Linked DNA regions of Homo sapiens: regions 2, 3, 4, 5, 6 and 7 are each reported to be linked to region 1. Evidence: microRNA targets listed by miRTarBase, many of them from high-throughput screens and not tested one by one. Region 1 holds a microRNA gene; each other region holds the end of a gene's coding sequence. Distances are from middle to middle.
Evidence for each region. The annotated mature microRNA hsa-miR-1827 reads UGAGGCAGUAGAUUGAAU and lies in region 1 at 1,566-1,583, shown strand. An mRNA with a match to its seed (bases 2 to 7 or 8) in the 3' UTR can be bound and repressed. Matches are read on the target gene's strand: a 7mer-m8 pairs with bases 2 to 8, a 7mer-A1 pairs with bases 2 to 7 and ends in A, and an 8mer does both.

Region 2: the mRNA of HOXD8 is a reported target of hsa-miR-1827. Seed matches in the 3' UTR shown: 7mer-A1 at 592-598.
Region 3: the mRNA of ZFAND4 is a reported target of hsa-miR-1827. The part of its 3' UTR that is shown has no 7-base or 8-base seed match.
Region 4: the mRNA of ZSCAN29 is a reported target of hsa-miR-1827. Seed matches in the 3' UTR shown: 8mer at 2,107-2,114, 7mer-m8 at 1,974-1,980 and 8mer at 1,816-1,823.
Region 5: the mRNA of MRPL51 is a reported target of hsa-miR-1827. Seed matches in the 3' UTR shown: 7mer-m8 at 2,562-2,568.
Region 6: the mRNA of PNO1 is a reported target of hsa-miR-1827. Seed matches in the 3' UTR shown: 7mer-m8 at 889-895.
Region 7: miRTarBase lists VPS35 as a target of hsa-miR-1827. Seed matches in the 3' UTR shown: 7mer-m8 at 2-8.

Annotation. Positions count from the first base shown.
Region 1 is chr12:100,188,367-100,191,464 of GRCh38, forward strand. MIR1827 (microRNA 1827) reads left to right here and starts at 1,518; the gene lies at 1,518-1,583.
Region 2 is chr2:176,131,302-176,134,399 of GRCh38, forward strand. HOXD8 (homeobox D8) reads left to right here. Exons shown (of 2, transcript NM_019558.4): 2 at 16-1,394. The coding sequence ends at 311. Among named protein-coding and RNA genes, the nearest start is that of HOXD8, 3.1 kb to the left of the region's middle.
Region 3 is chr10:45,613,953-45,617,050 of GRCh38, reverse strand. It overlaps ZFAND4 (zinc finger AN1-type containing 4), which reads left to right. Exons shown (of 10, transcript NM_174890.4): 10 at 480-1,551. The coding sequence ends at 615. Among named protein-coding and RNA genes, the nearest start is that of ZFAND4, 57 kb to the left of the region's middle.
Region 4 is chr15:43,358,429-43,361,428 of GRCh38, forward strand. It overlaps ZSCAN29 (zinc finger and SCAN domain containing 29), which reads right to left. Exons shown (of 6, transcript NM_001372080.1): 6 at 1-3,000. The coding sequence ends at 2,645. Among named protein-coding and RNA genes, the nearest start is that of ZSCAN29, 11 kb to the right of the region's middle.
Region 5 is chr12:6,489,547-6,492,644 of GRCh38, forward strand. MRPL51 (mitochondrial ribosomal protein L51) reads right to left here. Exons shown (of 3, transcript NM_016497.4): 3 at 2,340-2,921. The coding sequence ends at 2,725. Among named protein-coding and RNA genes, the nearest start is that of MRPL51, 2.2 kb to the right of the region's middle.
Region 6 is chr2:68,174,456-68,177,553 of GRCh38, forward strand. PNO1 (partner of NOB1 homolog) reads left to right here. Exons shown (of 7, transcript NM_020143.4): 7 at 280-1,783. The coding sequence ends at 347. Among named protein-coding and RNA genes, the nearest start is that of PNO1, 18 kb to the left of the region's middle. RefSeq lists an enhancer at 1,163-1,332.
Region 7 is chr16:46,657,734-46,660,831 of GRCh38, forward strand. VPS35 (VPS35 retromer complex component) reads right to left here. Exons shown (of 17, transcript NM_018206.6): 17 at 1-2,918. The coding sequence ends at 2,739. Among named protein-coding and RNA genes, the nearest start is that of VPS35, 30 kb to the right of the region's middle.

The DNA of each region.
Region 1 (3,098 bases):
TCAAACTGCTGAAGGCAGGGAGGGACAGCCTCTTACCCAAGGGAACAACCTCAGCCCCATCCCACAGTGAGGGGGAGAGGAAAATGCAGCAGGGAGGGAGGGAGCACCAGCTGCACAGCCAGGCAGTCCTGCAGAATGGGCTTCTCTAAACTTGAGTGGTGACCCACTGTGGGCCAGGATATCAAATTAAGAAGATAAGAAGTCAATTTTGAGGGGACAAGCATTTTTTTTAGTATTAAAAGAGAAAATAGTACTTAGCTTTACTATATGTAGCAGTGACATTTTTCTTTCAGTTTTATGTACATACTGACAGTATACATTTACATACAAAGGTGTATTATCTGCTGTCGGTTCCCAGTCAAAAAAGTGAACAACACTGTGTCCGAAGGTAACATCCTTCCCAGTGTCCAGAATTGGTTCCTTCTGGTGGGTTCTTAGTCTCGCCAACTTCAAGAATGAAGCTGCAGACCTTTGCGGTGAGTGTTGCAGCTCTTAAAGGTGGCACGGACCCAAAGAGTGAGCAGCAGTAAGATTTATGATGAAGAGCGAAAGAACAAAGGTTCCACAGCATGGAAGGGGACCCGAGCAGGTTGCCGCTGCTGGGTGGGGTGGCCAGCTTTTATTCCCTCATTTGTCCCTGCCCACATCCTGCTCATTGGTCCATTTTACAGAGCGCTGATTGGTCCATTTTACAGAGTGCTGATTGATCCATTTTACAGAGTACTGATTGGTGTGTTTACAATCCTTTAGCTGGACACAGAGCACTGATTGGTGCGTTTTTACAGAGTGCTGATTGGTGCATTTACAATCCTTTAGCTAGACACAGCGCTGACTGGTGTGTTTACAATCCTCTAGCTAGACAGAAAAGTTCTCCAAGTCCCCACTCGACCCAGGAAGTCCAGCTGGCTTCACCTCCCACCAGGAGGCCAAACAAAAAGGACAGTGCTGAGAGGAACCATCGTCCTGCTAGGGAAGGGAGTGTGGCACAAAGGCAGGTGGGTGTGGGCAGACCCCCCCTGCCACGGGTGTGCAGGGCAGAGGATGATGAGCCCCAAGCAGCAGGAGCAGGAGCAGTAGAGCAACTCTGCCCCTGAAAGGGTCTGGAGCCTTCCCTCATCACTCTTCCTCAAGTCGATGCTGGACACCCACTATGTACCAGGCCGTGTGAGGCACTGGGGTAAACCAGAGACAAGACAGACAGGGTCCCTGCCCCATGGAGCTCCCAGCCTTGCAAGGGAGCTAGACCACAGATGAGTACACAAAGAAATACAGTAACTACAGGCAGTGGTAAGGGCTGTGAAGGAGAAGCACGGCAGTGAGGAATGGGAGGAACAGGGAAGGCTTCTCTGAAGAACGAACAGAAGTAACCAGAGAAGAGACAGCCCGCCCTGCAAAGGGACAGCCTGAGGCAGGGCCTGTCGGGAAGACAATACATCTGAAGAACTGCAAGAAGTCAAGTGGGCCTGCAACAGAGGAAATGACAGGAGTCAGACCCCATGGGACCCTGAAGGCCATGTTCAGCAGCACAGCCTTCAGCCTAAAGCAATGAGAAGCCTCTGAAAGGCTGAGGCAGTAGATTGAATTGATTCAGGTCCCTTAGAATTGGGTCCCTGCAACAGGTGGACCCAGGACCGGCAGAGAATGCAGATAGGCGCCCCTCCTCAGCCCCCAACTCTAAATATAACAGAAGACATGGCTCAGTTGCTCCCTTGGTGGCCCTGGACAAGACAGGCTGAAGTTCTCTGAGCCTCCGCTTCCCATGCTGAGTCATGGTGAAAGGTCTCTGAGTCTACAGGCCAAAGCCACTGCTCCTCTCATGACTGCAGTGATTTCCATGGACAGTGTTATGCAACGGCGGCCCTTCTGATACGTGGGGCCCTGGGAGCGTGTGAACTGATCGAGACCAAGAGGACTGATGGGACACAACTGCTAAGCACAACCTCATGCTCCTGGGAGCTATCAAAGAAGACCAGGCACCAATGCAGCAACACACACACACAGCCCAGCCAACTTCCCGCAACTGCTGAAACTCCACGGGCCCAAAAGCAAGTCGCCTTCCTTCCTGCTTCCTTCTCTAGAAGGTCTGGCTTTAAAAATGTCACTGTGAGGCAGCAGCATGGTGACTACATGCCTTGTCTTTCTTGGCAGACAGAGCCATGCCTTCCAACGAGGAAAATTACAAATACCACGTTATGGCTCCTGGACAGGAACAACTTCTCCCAATTCACCAAACATCTGTGTGCCTGCTTTGAGCTGGTTTGCGCCCTCTGCTGCAAACAGGGGCTGAAGAGACGAGTCACTGTCACGACTTTAGAGTCCTAGACACTAAAACCATAATAGATTCTTGGGAACCCCCGCCGTGCTCACAGATAACTCTTTCTACCAGGCCTGAGTGGGTCAAGAATGAAGCAAAAACTAAGAGTCAGAGCAGGGCCAACTGCAGGGCCCGCAGAAGACCTGTGGGAGGGAGGCCTGGAAGGAAGAGCACACCTTCCCGGCCAGCTCAGCCCTCACAACTGCCCTTGAGAAAGGCACCCTGTCCACTCCACCCAAGGGAGTGGAGACACACTTCACCTACTGGCTCAAAAGAGTCAGAGGGGCAACAGTGGCAGCAATGCCAGCAGGCCTGGGGTGTGTAGCCACCATTTACAGAGCACTTACAATCAGTCAGGCAGTGTGCTAGGCATTTCTTATTTGTAACCTTAACAACACTCTCACTGATCCAGAGAGGGAGAGGTTTACACACACACACACACACACACACACACACACACACACACACACTCCAAGAGGATATGAGGGCTTAAAGCTTGGGTTAGGCAATAAGCATCTGGCATCCTCTAAGCATGAAAGGCACAGTAGTGAACTATACTGACAAAATCTCCTCCTAGGAGGTGATGCTCTAGTAGGACACAACAGCAGATGCTCAAAGACTAGATCAGGGAGCAAAACCATCCTGAATCTCTAGCCGACTGAGGGCCCCCTGTGCTGGCTGGTGAGCTACTGCCTACTGGACAATCATGAAAGCCACAGTCTCCCTAGGGATCCTCTCAGCTCCTTGCCCCTCAGATGGTCTCACACAACCGAGTGCTCAGGAT
Region 2 (3,098 bases), not on the chromosome of region 1:
TTTTGTTTTAATCAGCAGCTCCTGGTAGACGAAGAGGAAGACAAACCTACAGTCGCTTCCAAACTCTAGAGTTGGAAAAGGAATTTCTTTTTAACCCCTATCTGACCAGGAAAAGAAGAATCGAGGTTTCCCACGCCCTAGCCCTCACCGAGAGACAGGTAAAAATCTGGTTCCAGAACAGGAGAATGAAATGGAAAAAGGAAAACAACAAGGACAAATTTCCCGTTTCCCGGCAGGAGGTGAAGGACGGGGAAACGAAAAAGGAAGCCCAAGAGCTGGAGGAAGACAGAGCCGAAGGCCTGACAAATTAACTTCTACCTTTAAAATTTACCACAGACTATTAAAACTAATAATCACCATATGCTGTGGACACCACCTATTTTCTTTGTTGGAAAGGACCTTACCTGTGTTTCAAGCTACCTTCATGTCACTGCTCTTGAGGTTTTCTGTGCTTTGAGAGGGATTTGGGTGTTTAAAAAAGTTTCTAGTATCACATAGAAGCTGTCCTTGAGCTGTCCTATGGAAGGGTAATTTGATACTGACCTTGTAGCTATATTTTTATAATGGTTTTTAATGTCTGAGCTAGTGATTTGCCTCAACAACGTAAACTTCCTAATGATTAGCACTTAATAATTGCATATAAAATGCTTTATTAATTAAACAAGTGCACTTGAACATTTTAATATTTGTGGTGAGTAAATTAAAAGGAGTTTATTAATTAAAAAAAATTATGTCTGCAGAATACTTTATATTATTTGATTACAATGTATTATTTATGGATTTTTTATTCTTTCCTTTATAATGAATAGTTCGGGTGCGTTTTGTTTACTCCTAAAAGGTTTCTTTGCGTATTTTCTAAATGTAATATCTCGGGGAAAATATTAGAAAAGCACGTATTAGCTGAAGAATGTAACTTGTAGTCCAGCTCTGCAGCTTCCTTAAACTTAAGAAAAAGATTGGGCCAGTGACAAGAATTTAAAGACAATGTCCAAGTTGACAATTATTTTTCTATAGTCCATACAAATTAAATAATCTGGCAACTCTGGCAAATCGCCTTGTAAAATGCGTCTCATTTTTTAACTTGCTTTCGTTTTGAACCGCCCTTGTAATCGCCTGAAATCGCTAGTTCTTTATGCGGTGGCTGCCGCTGTGTTCCGTTATTTTCAGTAGGTGTCATATTTATTTGTATTGCCTTTGTTCTGTTCGCCGCTGGTTTTAAACCAGCTTGCTGTGTGCATCTCAGACGTCGGTTGGTACGTCCTCCGCTGTTCTTCAGGAAAGCGATAGCCTCACCTATTTGAAACAAGCCCTGAGAGGAAACGCAGAAAAACCTGAGTGTAAACAACTCCGGAATGTCGCTAGCTCCTTAGTAAATAAATGAATCTCTTTCTGGAGCTAGTGTCTTTGAGCGCCGCAAATACCCCTTTTCCATGAATCACTAACAATCGCCTGGGCTCGCACGAAGGAAAGGACTCGCTCAAGGCTTCTGTTTAATAAGAAAGGGGTGGGGTTACACACATTCCGCGCTGTTTAAAAAAAAAAAAAAAAAGGCCGCAGGGGCCCCTTCTTTTTCAGAGAGGACTGGCTAGTCTATCTTGCTCTAAATAATCTTGCTAAGATGCTCTGAGAGCTTTGATCCTCTTAAAGGACTCAAGTTGTAGGCCCAGTGGGGGACAACGCAAAGTCCATGTTACACCACAGCTTATTGCACTGAGCCGGCGTTGATGCTGGGGTTTGGCATCTGTTATTAACAAGATATCCATTTTCCATTGGAGGCTGCTCCTGCAGCTGCCATTTTACAGGGGAAAGTGGGGGGAAGAGGAGCGGGAGAAAAGAGGAGAAATTCAAGTAAAGTAACATTCCCGAAAAAGGGAAAGCACCTTTGTTAGGTAGTCATCGAAGAGCTCTCTGCTTTCTCTAACCATGTTTATTTTCAAAGGGGTAAATTTTTATTTCCAGAGTTGCTTTTATTACATAGATAAGAAAAATGGAATCCTATAGTTTTGCGCCAGGGTCACCTCATCGGGTTTTATCAGGCTGTTTGCCTGTGGCTTCATGGACACAGAAATGTTGCCACTGGCCAGGTCAGAAGGAAAGCACCACCTGGCTTTCCATGCTGGGAAGAAGTGATGGCTGTGACATTCTCTGACCTGAGCCAGGAAAGATAATTTTAAATCACAGGTGGCCCAGAACTTAAACATTTGCACTCCAAGAGACAGCTGCAAATGCCTATGCTGGATTTGAGAATGTTTTGCTCTGTGCACTGCTTAAGACTCTGCTGTCAGCTGGTACAGAGTAAGGATGCCAAGGGCCAAGAGGCTGGGGAACAGCCTCCAGTGTAAACCATCCAAAGACCAGTGCTGGCTGAAATCCAGCTGCCCTGGATTTAAGGGACTCAGGACTTCTTTATATATTAGCAAAACTGGCTGTCTCCTGCTCAAGGATGCTCACCAGATACTTTTAGAACCCTGAAATAATGTTGGCAAGACTGTCAGGTGGGAGCCCTGTGTATGGGTGGGTACGGAAATCAAGGAAGGAAGAGGAGATAAAATTGTCATTTCTTCAGCATTCTGTGCTGGTCTCAAAGTGTAACTTCTGGCCCCACTGGCCGCCTAAACCATGGTAAATTCATACCTCATGTACAGACAGACTGTTGCAATAGCTGGTATATATTAGATTATGAATTTGTATGTATACATAGCTTACACACACGCCCAGAGTGTTGATTATTCATGTAGGTAAATGTTTCCTTTTGTAGCTGGGAAAGAGCATAGATTTGTGTTCAAATAAAGACCTGGGGGAATTACACATCACACACACTCGCCACCTTCTTTCTTACACTGACTAGACATCCCCACCCCCCATCATGGTGTTTCATGCAGACAGACTGGCAGTGACTTGCGCACAAGATGCCCTTCTAATGGGCTCAAATGTGTCAACATCCAAGCATTGAGGCAACAAGCGAACACTTTTTTGCTGCAGAAATTTGCATAAACCTTCAGAGAATGCTTTGCCATCCCAGGCAGCACTTTTCAGCCCTGAACTGCACCAGTCTGCCTAGTGAGGTCTGTAAACCGTTTAGAGAAAAATGGTTCTCT
Region 3 (3,098 bases), not on the chromosome of region 1:
GCTGGAGTGCAGTGGCACGATCTTGGCTCACTGCAACCTCCACCTCCTGGGTTCAAGCGATTCTCCTGCCTCAGCCTCCCGAGTAGCTGGACTATAGATGCACGCCACCACACCCAGCTAATTTTTGTATTTTTAATAGAGATGGGTTTTCATCATGTTGGCCTGGATGGCCTGGAGATCCACCCGCCTCGGCTTCCCAAAGTGCTGGGATTACAGGCTTGAGCCACCGCCCCTGGTCTACCCTGTTTCAGTCAATAATGACTTCTTTATCATAAATTGTCATATTCGTAGATAATTAACTTGTTCTTTTTGGGGGTATTTATGCTTGTTTACGAATGGAAGGGAAATGTCAGCAGTGAAATTGCTAAAAAGAACCAAAGGGCCCCTGTTGGACTACCTGAAGTCAAGCTCCTGTCTCCCAGACAGATGAGCCTTTCATAGAAATACAACTATTCACGTAAACTTTTTTTGTGCTTTAGATGTGGAAACAACTTCTGTGCATCTCATCGTTATGCAGAAACTCATGGCTGTACCTATGATTACAAGAGTGCAGGGAGGAGATACTTGCACGAGGCAAATCCTGTGGTTAATGCACCAAAGCTTCCAAAAATCTAACTCTTCCTCTACATCTTACTGTTCTGCCCGGGATTCGTATTATAATGACAGAAGAAATGTTGTTTAGACTATTATTTTTGTTCGACTCTAAAAGATTTGCCAAATAACAAAAGCATACAATGCATACTGTTGGAGAACAAGAATGCTACTGTATTTTACATCTTTATTTCTTGGTGAAACAAAAGTTTTAAAAGTAGTTTTAACAACTTTACACTGGAATGATTTAGCTTTGTTATTGCATGTCTTGTGTTAAGTGTTTTGTATATGATATTGCAGTTTTACTAGGCAAATCTTCAAAAGATGCACTTTAGGAAACGAAATATTTCCTAAATAACCAGGCTTCCACATTGTACAGAATGAGCAGTCATGTAATGAATGGCTCTACTCAGATTGACCATATGGGTTTTTTCTTTTTCTTTCTTTTATTCTTCTCCTTCTTTTTTTTTCAGAGGTGGGATGGGTGGAGATTTTTTAAAAATCCCACGTGTGAAAGTTTACTGGCTTTATTAGCAAGTTCCTTTTTACTTCAAGCTACTTTTTATAAAAAAGAACATTTTTCCAGTGTGGTTTTTAACAGATAATACATTTCTTCCACATTCAGATTAGTATTCGGACATGAATCCATTCTATAAAACACATCGTGTTCATGATAGTGTATATTTTACTACTTTTTGAATGTTAATTTTAAAATAGAAGATGTCCCACTTGCCATTAAATATAGAAGCCAACTTTTTACCTTTTGAAATATGGCTACATTTAAAACAAAATCTCACAGCTCGGTTTTTCTTATTTGTTGAGTGCTATTACCAGGAGAAATTCAAATAAATATTCAATTTCATTATGAATTTCATTATTTATTTATAATAGTTTTTCTTTTATAAATAATTTTTCTTTTATAAAACTATTTAATTAAATGAGTGATTTATTTTACGTGGATAAAATAACTATCAGTATAAAAATATTCTTTTAGGATATTAAGGACCCTGTTCCCCAGGTGTAACCAGAAACCACTAAGGCACTTAGTGGCCACTTGCTGTATAGAAGCTCAGTTCAGACTGATGCTGAACCCTGGTAAACAACTAGCACCTAACCCAGGTAGACTCTGCAGCCCTGGGGTAGCAGACTCTGCTAAGAGTACCAGACTCTGCTAAGAGTACCAGAAGGCTAACTTAGGAGCTGTGAGGGGCCCCTTCCTCTACTTAAGGCTGAATGAACTGGAGAGCTCACTGCCCCTGCTCCTGTAAGAAATGAAATGTTGATGGAGACAGATGCCTTCAGACAAAGAGGGCAGTACATTCATAAGAGGGAATGGCTAAAAGTTAGCAGAGGAGCTATGCAAATGGGGGTTGAAGGCATGCTTTTTAAGAAGGGTGGATATAAGTAGATGAAAAATACTTTCATCTGTGTTATGAATAATTCAGTATTTCCTCCTGTATCAAGAAGACACGTGTTTTAGACACTTAAAATATAAGAACTGCCTTACAGAGTTAGACTGCTGAGAAATGGACCATAGCATATTTATTCTGCAAACAAATATGAATGCCTAGGGCCTACTTGATGTAGTGTGCTATGCTTTTTAAACCAAGACTATAAGTAGAAGTAAGTCTCATTCTAAGTTTTACTAAAGATTGTGGTGAAAGTTAAGTCTTTTTACTAGTTTTCAATAACTGACAGCTGAACTATTTTAATTCAACAAGTTATATCATTATATTGAGGGGCATTTCTTTATGCTTTAAATTCTTACACAGACACATTCCAAATTTTAGAGACATTGTATCTGTCTTTGCATTTCCAGTAATTAGCAGAGTAGATTGCCTGTAGGTACTGGTTAAACATTAGTTGAATAAATTGATGCATTGGACAACTTAACCGTGATTTTTTTTTTTTTTTGACATAGAGTCTTGCTGTGTCACCCAGGCTGGGTGCAGTGGTGCGATCTTGGCTCACTGCAACCTCTACCTCCTGGGTTCATGTGATTCTCCTGCCACAGCCTCCCGAGTAGCTGGGATTACAGGTGCCCACCACCATGCCTGGCTAATTTTTGTATTTTTAGTAGAGAAGAGGTTTCACCATGTTAGCCAGGCCAGTCTTGAACTCCTAACCTCAAGTGATCTGCCCACCTTGGCCTCCCAAAGCGCTGGGATTACAGCCATGAGCCACTGCACCTGGCCCATGCTTTTTTAAAAAAGGCATTTATATTGTTTTATTTAGCTAAGCCCATTTTATGTAACGAAGTTCAGTTTCTGGATTTTTTTAAAACAGCATTTAGTTTTAACAGCACTAAAAGTTTTAAATTTTTAACTTTTGGCTATGTGGAATATTTTCAGGTTATATTTAATGTAATCATTCTAAAAAGGGAAATCCAAATACTCAGGTGTCCTTAAAATCCTATCAGTGTACGTGTAACTTGTGGAGACAATTATTTTTTAAAAGACAGGAATTCATTTTCTCATATATGTTTAATGTGATTTTTCTTTTTTTTT
Region 4 (3,000 bases), not on the chromosome of region 1:
CTGGTGTTTCTTGTAGCTTCCTGTCTGCTTAGGCAACATAACAGAAGTACCATCTTCCCTTAATTCCTAATAAATATTAGATTTTTTTGTACTAAGATTCAACAGCAGAATCCTAATTAATCTCTAACACAACAAGCTATGAATTATAGAATACTATATCTTCCTACTGCTCTCCCTGATCTTATTCCAGCCACAGAATTCTAATTGAATGTGAAACGGCTACTTATCCCAGTCCTTGGCCATCTGGCCATGTTTATCTTTCTTCTCACCTGCTCATCAAAATATCTTCATCAGATACTACGATTTCTGACCTTTATCTCCCATAGGAGCTAGTCCCCTAAAACTGCTTATTCTTTCAGTGGCAGTCAGCTGTTTCCTTATCAATAGTTATAGCGTAGTACCTGATTTACTATAGATGATGGTTCTACCACCTCATGGTCTGCTCCTAACACCCATGTTTCAGCTAAGGTGATTCTCTCTGCCTGCTGCACAGCCCATATCATACTATTCCTCAAGTTCTCATGCTACTCCAAGCTTTATCTGGCCTTCCTTACAGTCTATCCTTTGCCCTTTGTTCCATCTACACAAAACACCTTGCTCCCCCTTTTTCCCATTCCTCAACCCACCCAGCACTCAATTTTGCAACTAGTTATGGAAAGTTCTTCCTATCATAATTTAACCAGTAACCTTCCCTCCTTTGACCACTTCCTGCTTCATGAAGCCTTCCTGAATAAAGAGAAAAAATACCTCCCAGATTTTTGTTAAAGCAAACTAATGCATTGGACCACAACATTTATGCATAGTGTTGCTACCTAGCTTTCTAGATTTCTCTAAAACTGCCGCAACTATGCATGTGCACTTGTTTGTCCATGTCAGTGTCATCTGCTTTAGATTGTAAGGACAAGGAGAGGACCTGTTGACCTTGTGCTATACAGGGCTCATCATACTATGAGCATATGGGCAGTTAATACTATTGTATTATAAAGATGAGTAATTATATTTGCATTTAAAGAACTGCTTTTAATTGTATTCAGTTGAATGTGTATGTCTAGATTGGCAGCTCCACTGGCCAAAGATAATCCATCTTCCCTGCCATTAGGGTAAAGGGCCTGTTCGCACACAGTAGTCCATTTTCCCAATACACGGGAATGTGGCAGTGGCTTCTGCTTATTGCAGGTAAGTGCCCATGGAGGGCATAACACTATACCAGGTGTGTGGAATATGGACGAGTTCCTATTGGCAGCTTTAACTGCTCTACCTGTCACCACATGCAGCTGCGTTGCTCTGTGGAACTTCTGGACCACAAGAGACAGACGAAATTCAGATGAGACTGGACAGAAAGAAAACCAACCTAAATCCTGTAAATGTATTATTCTATTCCAACCCTTCTTCTAGGACTCAGAAGAAACTAAGAAATCCAGGGTTCACACTTCAGTATAAGGTTTTCATTGTTTCTGCATAAGAACACCTGTTCTTGACAAGATGATTCATAGGGCAGAACCAAGATGGACATTAAACTCTCCTTCTTTAAGGTAAATGAAGAGGGTGCCTGACAAATATGTCATTTTGAGCACAGGTTTAAGTGAGCAGGAAGAGTCATTCATTTTAGCATTTCCATTATTGTATAAAGAAGAGCTGGGCCGGGTGCAGTGGCTCACACCTGTAATCCCAGCACTTTGGGAGACCTAGGCAGGCAGATCATGAGGTCAATTCAAAACCAGCCTGGCCAACATGGTGAAACCCCATCTCTACTAAAAATGCAAAATTTAGCCTGGTATGGTGGCAGGTGGCTGTAATCCCAGCTACTCAGGAGGCTGAGGCAGGAAAATTGTTTGAACCCAGAAGGCAGAGGTTGCAGTGAGCTGAGATCATGCCACTGCACTCCAGCCTGGACGACAGAGTGAGACTCCATCTCGAAAAAAAAAAGCCCGGCGCAGTGGCTCATGCCTGTAATCCCAGCACTTTGGGAGGCCGAGGCAGGCAGATCACCTGAGGTCGGGAGTTTGAGACCAGCCTGCCCAACATGGAGAAACCCCATCTCTACTAAAAATATAAAATTAGCTGGGCATGGTGGCGCATGCTTGTAATTCCAGCCACTTGGGAGGCTGAGGCAGGAGAATCACTTGAACCCGGGAAGCAGAGGTTGCAGTGAGCTGAGATCGTGCCATTGCACTCCAGCCTGGGCAACAAGAGCAAAACTCCGTCTCCAAAAAAAAAAAAAAGAGCTAGACCCACCTAATGGGCAAAGTCTCATAACTTCTTCTCGAAATGTAATGGGTTTTTCCTGTCAAAATGCAGCTGAATGACAGAATGAGTAAAGAAGGATGCTTATCAAATTCATAGGATCTATTACCTTGTCCTCTGTGCTTATATTAAGGGAACACCATAGGCACTGAGAGGGAAAAGATGTTATCCATCAATTCAGATGCAGGCAAAGAGAGGGACTGAAATCTTCCTTTCATTCTTTAGACTGCCTTGGGGATTTGAGTCTAGATCAGGAAAAACAAGGAACAAACAGTGGCATAAATCCTAAAGTGAATTTCCTAAGCTAACTGGACACAGAATAGTAGATGAATCTCACTATTGGAAGACTTTCTAAACAATACATTTATTGAGCCTCTTTCCGTTATATATCCTCAGGGGCTTACTTGGGAGCTGACTGTGTCAGAAGCTTTTCCCGTGCATGGATTTCTCCGTGCTTATTAAGGGCAGAGCTTTTACTGAAGCACTTACCACAGTCATGACACCCATAGGGTTTCTCTCCTGTGTGGGTTCTATGATGTGCACGTAAGTCAGAACTCTTACTGAAACTCTTTCCACAGTCAGGACACACATGGGGTCTCTCTCCTGTGTGTATCCTCCGATGTGCACTAAAATGAGAACTGTTATTGAAGCTTTTTCCACACTCTTCACATTGATAGGGCTTTTCTCCTGTGTGGGTTCTCTGGTGAATGATAAGGCTTGAGCTCTGATTGAAGCATTTCCCACACTCACCACATT
Region 5 (3,098 bases), 94 Mb from region 1:
CTGACCTCAGGTGATCCGCCCACCTTGGCCCCCCAAAGTGCTGGGATTACAGGCCTGAGCCAGCATGCCCAACCAACATTCTTTTCTAAAGCATGTTGGTCAGAAGCAGTCCACCACGGAGGGGATGAACAACAGTATACAGTCATGGTCTTTCATCAGGGCTATGTTAATTCTGTTCTCTGTCATGATGTAATCTAAAAAATGTGGACCATTTGCACATTCTGCAGAGTATCACATTGGTCCACCATCTTGTAACTTTACATCCTTCAGACGTCTTTTTTTTTTTTTTTTTCTTTTTTTAAAGACAGAGTCTCCCTCTGTTGCCCAGGCTGAAGTGCATGGTGCAATCTCAGCTCACTGCAACCTCTCTGTCTCCCGGATTCAAGCGATTCTCCTGCCTCAGCCTCCCGAGTAGCTGGGATTACAGGCACACACCACTATACCTGGCTAATTTTTTTGTATTTTTAGTACAGACGAGGTTTCACCATGTTGGCCAGGATGGTCTTGATCTCCTGACCTCGTGATCCGCCCACCTAGGCCTTCCAAAGTGCTGGGATTACAGGTGTGAGCCACCGGACATCTTTTAAGTAGAATGAAGACTACTTAGAGGTAGGAACCAACCCTACCTTGGTGATTTTTGTTCCTCCAAATATCTTTGCACATAATAATTCAATATTTATTCAAAGAAAACGTTATATACTGTTTCATACCACAAACAAGATTGTTCTGTCCTTGAAAACAAAACCTTTTGTATCTTTGAATCAGGAAATATTCTATAAATGCCTATTGACCTATTAATTTCCTCTTCCCTAACAATCAGATACTCTACCAGGATATGTAGATATCTTCTTCAGGGCACCTTGCACTTAGCAGAGTCCCAAATATTTTATTTTCTCCACTCTAGCACCACCAAATCATGTAAAGTATACAGCCACTCACATTTCACATCAACTTCTCCATTCTTATGCATAGCTCCTTCCAGCCACCCCTCTGAAAACTGACTCTCCTAAACATTTCCGTAAGACCCAGGATCATGTTTTCATATATACCCATCAATCCATTTATCCAAAACCCACTTGTAATTTAACAAGTGCTTTTTATTTTTATTGAAGATGGGGTCTTGCTATGTTCCTAAGGCTGGCCTCCAACTCCTGGTTTCAAAGGATCCTCCCACCTCAGCCTGCAGAGTAGCTGGGATTATAAGTGTGCTCCAACCACCATGCCCCGCAACAAGTATTTATTAATCTAACTTCACTTTTATGGAGTTTTTGTTTTTTAAAATATAGAGATGGGGTCTTGCTATGTTGCCCAGGCTGGTCTTGAACTCCTGGCTTCAAGCAATCCTCATGCCTTGGCCTCCCAAAGTGTTGGGCTTACAGGTGTGAGCCACTGCACCCAGCCCTAACTTCACTTTTTTTTTTTTTTTTTTTTTGAGACAGTCTCACCCCAGTTGCTCAGGCTGGAATGCAGTGGCATGATCTCAGCTCACTGCAGCCTCAAACTCCTGGGCTCAGGTGATCTTCCCACCTCAGCCTCTTGTGTAGCTGGGACTGCAGGCACGCAGAACCATGAGTAGCTGGAACTACAGGCATGCAGAACCATGCCCAGCTAAGTTGTTTTTTTTTTTTTTTTGAGACAGAGTCTTGCTCTGTTGCTCAGGCTGGAGTGCAGTGGCACGATCTCGGCTCACTGCAAGCTCCACCTCCCAGGTTCAAGTGATTCTCCTGCCTCAGACACCTGAGTAGCTGGGACTACAGGTGTCCGCCACCACTCCTGGCTAATTTTTTTGTTTGTTTGTTTTTGTATTTTCAGTAGAGACAGGGCTGTGTTAGCCAGGATAGTCTCGATCTCCTGAGCTCGTGGTCCGCCCCCCTCCGCCTCCCAAGGTGCTGGGATTACAGGCAGGAGCCACCGCACCCAGCCACTTTATTTTTAGTAGAGACGGAGTTTCACCATGTCGCCCAGACCAGTCTCAAATTCCTGTCTCCAAGCAATCCTCCCACCTCAGCCTCCCAAAATGCTGGGATTACATGTGGGCACCATTCTGCCCAGCTGTAATTCTTAAAAATTATTATTAAAAAAGAACAAAACACATAGATGCCCTAGACTCAACTCAGCTCTACTGATCAATCTTTAGGGGTTAGGACTAGGCTTTTGAAATGTTAAAACACCCAGAAAACTGATGACCAGTCAGGCTTAGTATCCGCCATCTCTACCATTCATATGGTACTTAATGTTTCATATTTAAATGGAAAGGACACCTCACACTTTTTTGTTTTTCCTATAGTTCCTACTCAGAGAATATGCCTAATAAATATTTTATGAGAGTAGTACAGAAGTATGACTCCATTTTTCTCTTATATTTCATTTCAGTGTGGAAGGCTCTTTAGAAACACTATTAACATAACAGCATTATGTCAAAAAGCGCCAATAACATTCTCACCAACTTTTCTTTTTAAAGGAATTAGGTATAGCTAGACTGTAAAAGGCAAGTGGTGTGAAGCCCAAACCTAAGATCCTAAGATCTAGGATGAGTCAAGACTTCATAGTCTACATGAGTAGAGGCAGCATCTAGAGGAAAACAAAAGTATGTGGCTATCAAATTCCAAAGAAGCCCCATTTTATTACAGAGAAAATACAAAGCCGTTTCCTCACAGGGAAAAGTACAGTTTCCCTTCTCCAGGGTGACAGATGAGCCTTTTCCGAAGTTCTCAGCTTTCTCTTCTATCGAAACTTCCCATGTCGGTTAAAGTGTTTGTAGAGATAGCGGATGCGTTTATTAAGGTTGTGCAGGTCATCAGCGAACATTCTACTTCCAACCATTTTCCTCTTTCGGATACAACGTTGCAATTCATTCCCTTTCCAACCTCGAAGCCATATGGGCCCCCTGATCAGTTCTTTGGGGTGCTTTTCAAAGTTTCCTGTGTAATGTGAGAGAACACATTAGATCCAAGACAAGAGAACTCATCCTACACCAGCTAAGCTTTCAACCCACGGTTGCATCTTGCTGAGCAGCACCTATAGACAAGGAACATTACAGTACAGAACAATAGCACAGACTCTGGAGCCAGACTGCTTGGGGTTAAAATTCTGATGCT
Region 6 (3,098 bases), not on the chromosome of region 1:
GGCAAATTAAAAATAATACAAATTTTAAAACACAATACAGTACTATTTACATAGCATTTGCATTGTATTAGGTATTATAAGTAATCTAGAGATGATTTAAAGTATATGGGAGGATGTGGGTAGTTAATGTGCATATTTTTTATGTAAGAGACTTGAGCATCCAAGGATTGTGGTGTCTGTGGGAGTCCTGAAACCAGTCTTCCTTAGACACTGAGGGACAACTGTAGGCGCTATAAATGTGAGTTTATTTGTGTATATACTTTTTTTTCCCCTTTGCAGGAAATCCTCCTTCCAAGGTTTATGGCAATATTCGAGCTGTGGCTAGCAGATCAGCAGATCGATTCTGATTTCAAGTCAGAGACTTTTTATCTTGCCTTTGGACTCTGGTGAAAAATACTTTACAGTGGTCGGTCACAAGAAACCAGCTGAACAATTTCAGTCATTTGAAGCCTCCGTCCCTTCTTCCATTCTCAGCCAGAAGCATAAACAGAAAAGAAAGATTTAAGAGGATTCACACTCAACAGGTTTTAGGATAATTTAAATATCAAAAATTGATTGTTATACTTAACACATTAGGTATAATTTATCATTTATCTGAAATCACATGTAGCAGATTGCATAGTCTGTAATCCTCTCAGAGGGAAACTTCTTGTTTAAACAGCTCTATATGGATTTATACTTTTATATTTATAAATTTATAACTTCATACAAATTTATAAACATTTCTTTATAAATTGTAATTTAATAGATTATCTCAGAAAAACCTCTCTGAATGATGACCCTTCCTTAATACTGGGTGATGTGTGAATATTTGTTTGTTGGCAGACAGGGTCTCACTTTGTCACCCAGGCTAGAGTGCAGTGGTGCAATCTCAGCTCACTGCAGCCTCTGCCTCCTGAGTTCAAGTGATCCTCCTGCTTCAGCCTCCCTAGTAGCTGGGACTACAGGTATGCACCACCATGCCTGGCTAATTTTTTGTATTTTTTGTAGAGATGGGGTTTCGCCATGTTGACCAGGCTGGTCTTGAACTCCTGGCCTCAAGGGATCCGTCCGCCTCAGCCTCCCAAAGTGCTGGGATTACAGGCATAAGCCACTGCGCCTGGCCTTGATGTGTGAATATTTGAGAGGTCATAAGCAGTGGTTTTGGCCATACCGTATTATACCATATACATCAGTAAGAGCTCATCTTGGAACCTGTTTTGCAGTTTCTTGCAGTTTCAAAAATTAAAGACCTACATCACAGGGTTAATGTGAAGAAAGCTTTATTTTTCAAATGAGTATTTAATGAAAGTATACATAACCAATGTTGGGTATACAGATGCTTCTCAACTTATGATGGGTTTAGGTCCAGATAAGCCCACTGTGAGTTGAAAATACCAAAAGTCAAACATCATAGCTTAGCCTACCTTAAAAGGGCTCCGAACACTACATTAGCCTACAGTTGGGCAAAATCGTCTAATACAAAGCCTATTTTATAATAAAGTATGTTGAATATCTCATGTAATTTTTGAAGATTACATTGAAAGTGAAAAACAGAATGGTTGGGTACTTGAAATACAGCTTCTACTGAATGAATAATTCTAAAGTTGAAAAATAATAGTAAGAACCATCATAAGTCTGTTTCTTCTAGTAAAGGTGAAATGATGAAAGAATGCTTTTTTCCCACCCAAAAAACTATGCTCTATAAATGCAGATTAGCTAGTTTCTGCCTGTTTAAATGGTATTATTTTATACATTACAAAATGGAAGGAACTTACTTTATTAAACTTAACTTTGATACTTCTCTTATGCATCTCTAAAACCCTTGATGAAAACATGTAAACTTCAGTAATGGCAGTATTAGAAAGTTCATGTAGGAACTAAAAGAAAAATTGTTAAGCTTGTTTCCTTTATATCATCAGTTACATATCCCACTGTTCTAAGCTAGTTTGTACAGTATGTGGGATCGGATATACTTAGATATTTTTAAAAATTTCATTCATTAATGCTTTTTTTGCAAAATACTCAACTGGGAATCCAACTGGAAATTGCTGAGTATGTCCCACCTCAAATTATTTTTTTATCCTTTGGCAACAGCAGCATGGAGCAAGGATATGTACAATGATATCAGATCCTTTTACTCATACCTTTTTGAAAAAGATTTGGGACTTTTTTATTCTGGAGTCTGTACAGGTTTTCAGAGGTACTTGCCTACCTTCATCCTTTCCCCAGGAAGTTAAATTCAAAATTGTGACTATTTCATTTACTTTCCTGGGGAATGGGCCCATGCCTGTAATCAGGTTTTCCAAGCACTTGGACTGAATTGAACCATTGCTAGGTGACCATAAATGTTTTGAATCGACTTTCAAGGAATGGAGGAGGCAGGAAGTTAAAAGCATCATTTCAACTGCGAAAATATGGGTTATCTGTATTAAAGGGAAATAACGTTTTGGTATTATCCAAATTACTTCCCCTTTTGAAGATTTCCTATGTAATTACAACTGTCAGTAATACAAGAGAGCAAATATATTTCCCTGGCAGCTGCTAAAATTTGGAATGCTGAACGTTGGTTTAAGGAGTTGCTTTCACCTCCTCCCCACCCCCGCCCGCCGCTTAGTTAAGCGTTTGTATCTCCTGTTCCCCAGTAGTAGTAGTAGTACTACTTGGGGCTTTTGAAAGGGAGAGAAAATGTTAGGGGAACCCAATTAATAATCCTTGGGATGGGAAAGTATGAAGAAGGAATAGAGGTAATAAATTTGACTATCATACTGGCAGTTGATCTTAACCTGGGTCAAATAACTTCATTAAACCCTTCTCTAAGGCCAAGACACTAAATCTAATACTTCCAACCTTACCTGTTTCTATGGCGCTTGTCACTCTATATTGTAATTATTGTGTCTGCCTGCCACCCTAAGGCTTATATTTTGGATACTCAGTATCTGGTACGATTTTCTGACATACACTTTACATATGTATTCACTGATACATTGCCTGGGAGATGGGCCTGAGAGAAGAGCATTTTCTTAGGTATTCGTGGCTGGCAAGAGACCCATGGAGTTTCCTCCTAGTCACTCGCTCCTGAAGAGCTGGGCTCCAACTCTCATGCCACCTAGAACTAG
Region 7 (3,098 bases), not on the chromosome of region 1:
AGAGGCAGGAAAGGGAGGGTAGGAAAGTCTAACACGGCAGGCATCTCTCATCCAGTCACAGCATCTTCCTAGATGTGTCCCCCCAAACTATCCCCTAGTCTTGGAATTTAATGCCATTCAGCACCAAGCCTGCCCTGGTTCAGCGTTTCCATCCACCTGTGAGGGATTCCCCACCACACCCCAATTAAGGACAGGTACTTTTTTGTAAGACACAATAAAAATTACTAAAAAAGGAGAACAGGGAATAGCAGACACACAAAGCACAAAGCCAAATATTTATTACATCCAATAGACATAAAATTACTCTGTCAAATTGCTATAAAGGGTTTTAAATGCTAAGTCAATTTCTAAATATCTATTTCACTACAGGCAGCCAAGAGTATAACTTGCTTCAGCCCATGGGTCTGAGGAGCCTGGGACTGCAGGCCAAAGCACTGGCCTCAGAAGGCTAAATAAACTATTGGACTTGATGTTCCATGAGAATTCATACAACCCTCTGCAGAACTTCCCCATCCCCAATCCCTCAAAGCTCTTCTTCACTGCTCTCCTGCACAAACCCTTACCATCTTCTGTAACTACAGGTCTGTCTTCACAGCAGACTAACGTTCTTGAAGCTAGAGGCTATGATCTTCTTCACCTTTAGATTCAGTGCCTAACTATATCTGGTACCCAGTTTTTGTTCAACAAAAAAAATCTGTAAGTTAAGGATACTAGCAGTGCTTTTGTTTCACTTTTATTTACTTTTGTTGGTTTATTATTTTTAAAATTGGGTTTACCTCAACCCAGAAAATAAGAGATAATTTACACACTGTACTGACATTACCTTACTTGCAAACCAAGCTCTCCAACTCAAGTGTTCTTGACTCATGTCTTTTCTACTATTCCAGTTGTATTTCACAAAACATGTAAATAATATGGACATGTCAAGCCATAATCAGGTTTATACGGGGTAAACTAACACCTACAAAGAACAGAAAGGGTTTGCTGGACTATGACATACCACAGAATGGCTTAACATTTGATACATTTTAGTGGTACTAATTTTATAACTTTGGGAAACATCTGTTCATGTAAAGCCCAGCAAGGGCTAGTCATCAAGTGCTAGCAATGGGAGGGCAGATGGTGAGGGGTTAAGTGATGTAGTCATTTGAAAATGTCTATAAATTTTCCCTTTAAGAGGTGGAGCTTAATTCTCCTTACCCTTGAATATAGGCTAGACTTAGTGACTCCCCACTTACAGAATAAGGCAAAAATGAGCATGTCACTTCCACAGGGAGGCCACTGAAAGGCACTGTGGTTTCCTTCTTGCTTTCATACTCAGGGGAAAGCCAGCCACCATGCTGTGAGGACACTCTATGGAAGGGCCGTCAAGGAGAGGAACTGGGGCCTCTGCCCTCAAGGAAAGGAACTTAGGCCTCTGCCCTCAAGGAGAGGAACTGGGGCCTCTGCCCTCAAGAAGAGGAACTGGGGCCTCTGCCTAACAGCCAGGTCAGTGAGCAGAAAAGTCAGCCCCAGTCAAAGCATCAGATGACTGCAGCCCCAACCAGTATCTTGTTTGCAACCTTACACCACACTCTTTGCCAGAACCACCAGCTAAGCTGCTCCCAAATTCCTGATCCAGAGACCTGTGAGATAAATGTTTGCTGTTTTAAGACAGTAAGTTTTGGGATGGTTTATTATATAGTAGGTAACTAGTATCGGTGGTGAGCCTTTGGGGGGTTTATGTGAATTCATCATGCCTTGGGAAAAGCAGGGTAAAGTTGAGGAAAGAAAAGGGGTATAAATGACTAAAAGAGTAGATGCTGCCTTGTTCAACAAGTGCTTAAAACTAGAGTTAAGTGAGCTCTGTGAATATATGAGAATGACTATTAAACTCTATAGCCATACTACTAGTACTTTTTATCAATTAAAGATAGTATGAAAGGGGAAAAAAAGCTCCAAAATTGTTAATAGCATCTTTATTGTTTCACTGGTGCAAAAAAAAAAATCATAATTGTGATGCATTTCCTGCTAAATTTACAATGAAGGTGATACATAAATTATATAGATCACAAGTTTTCTTTTATACTATTTAAAACCCAATTATATTGATAAATATGTCCAGAGGACAACATGGGTTCTTAATGGATGGCTGAGTCCAAATATGCAAAATATAGCTTCTGGTTTTGACCATGGTGCTTTAAAATTCTCAAACATGCATTAATATATTCTAGTTTTAGGGAAAATCTTACACATGGCCTTATCTTGCAATTTAGGGGAAAGCCCAAGATGAATTTCACATACAGTATTCCTTTCTTCTAAATTAATCTCAAACTGGACTAGAAAACAAGAGACAGACGCTTTTGGGTTAGTACTCCCCAGGAATGAAGAAAATACACAATCAACAATGAAGCAAACAAACAAACAAAAAAAAGGAGAGCTTCATTAGTAGCCAAGATAAGTGCTTGTGGGTTTTGTGTTTTTTTTTTTTTTTTTTTTTACAGATCACAGGAATTTTAAATTGCAGATCAGTCATGCTACTTGGGGTGATCAGAAAGACTTGAACACTTACCAAGTGAATAATTTTATTAAGGTCCTGAAGGTGAGTGTCCGGAGGTGCTGGGTAAAACACATCACAGGTAAGAAATGGGAAACCTACCTCAGCATTTCTGAAAGGCACAATCTATGGAAGGGAAACCTAGCGTAATAAAACCCTCACTGGATGTACATGGAAAGGAGTATGGTGAGCTATTTCCTTTTTAAAGGATGAGACCTTCATAAATTGGCCCCTCGGATTCTGGTGATTCCCGCCGCAAGCGCAAATGCTCCAGTGTGTTATGAAAATGTTTGTTAATCTGCTCTGTTTCTTCACTGGATTCAAGATTCGGGAGGTCTTCTCGAATCTTTTGGATAAGCTGGTTTAAAACCTGAATTGTTACCTACAAAAGAATATGTACAAATTCATGATCAAGCACGTACCACAAAAAATGAAAGGCAATTTAATAAAACTGTTTTGAGGAGCTTCTGTTACACTCATCAATTACCTGAGTAATTATGAAAAAAGAAAGATGGGGATACAATTCCTAGTTTGAACAATTACTGACTATCAAAAAAAAAAA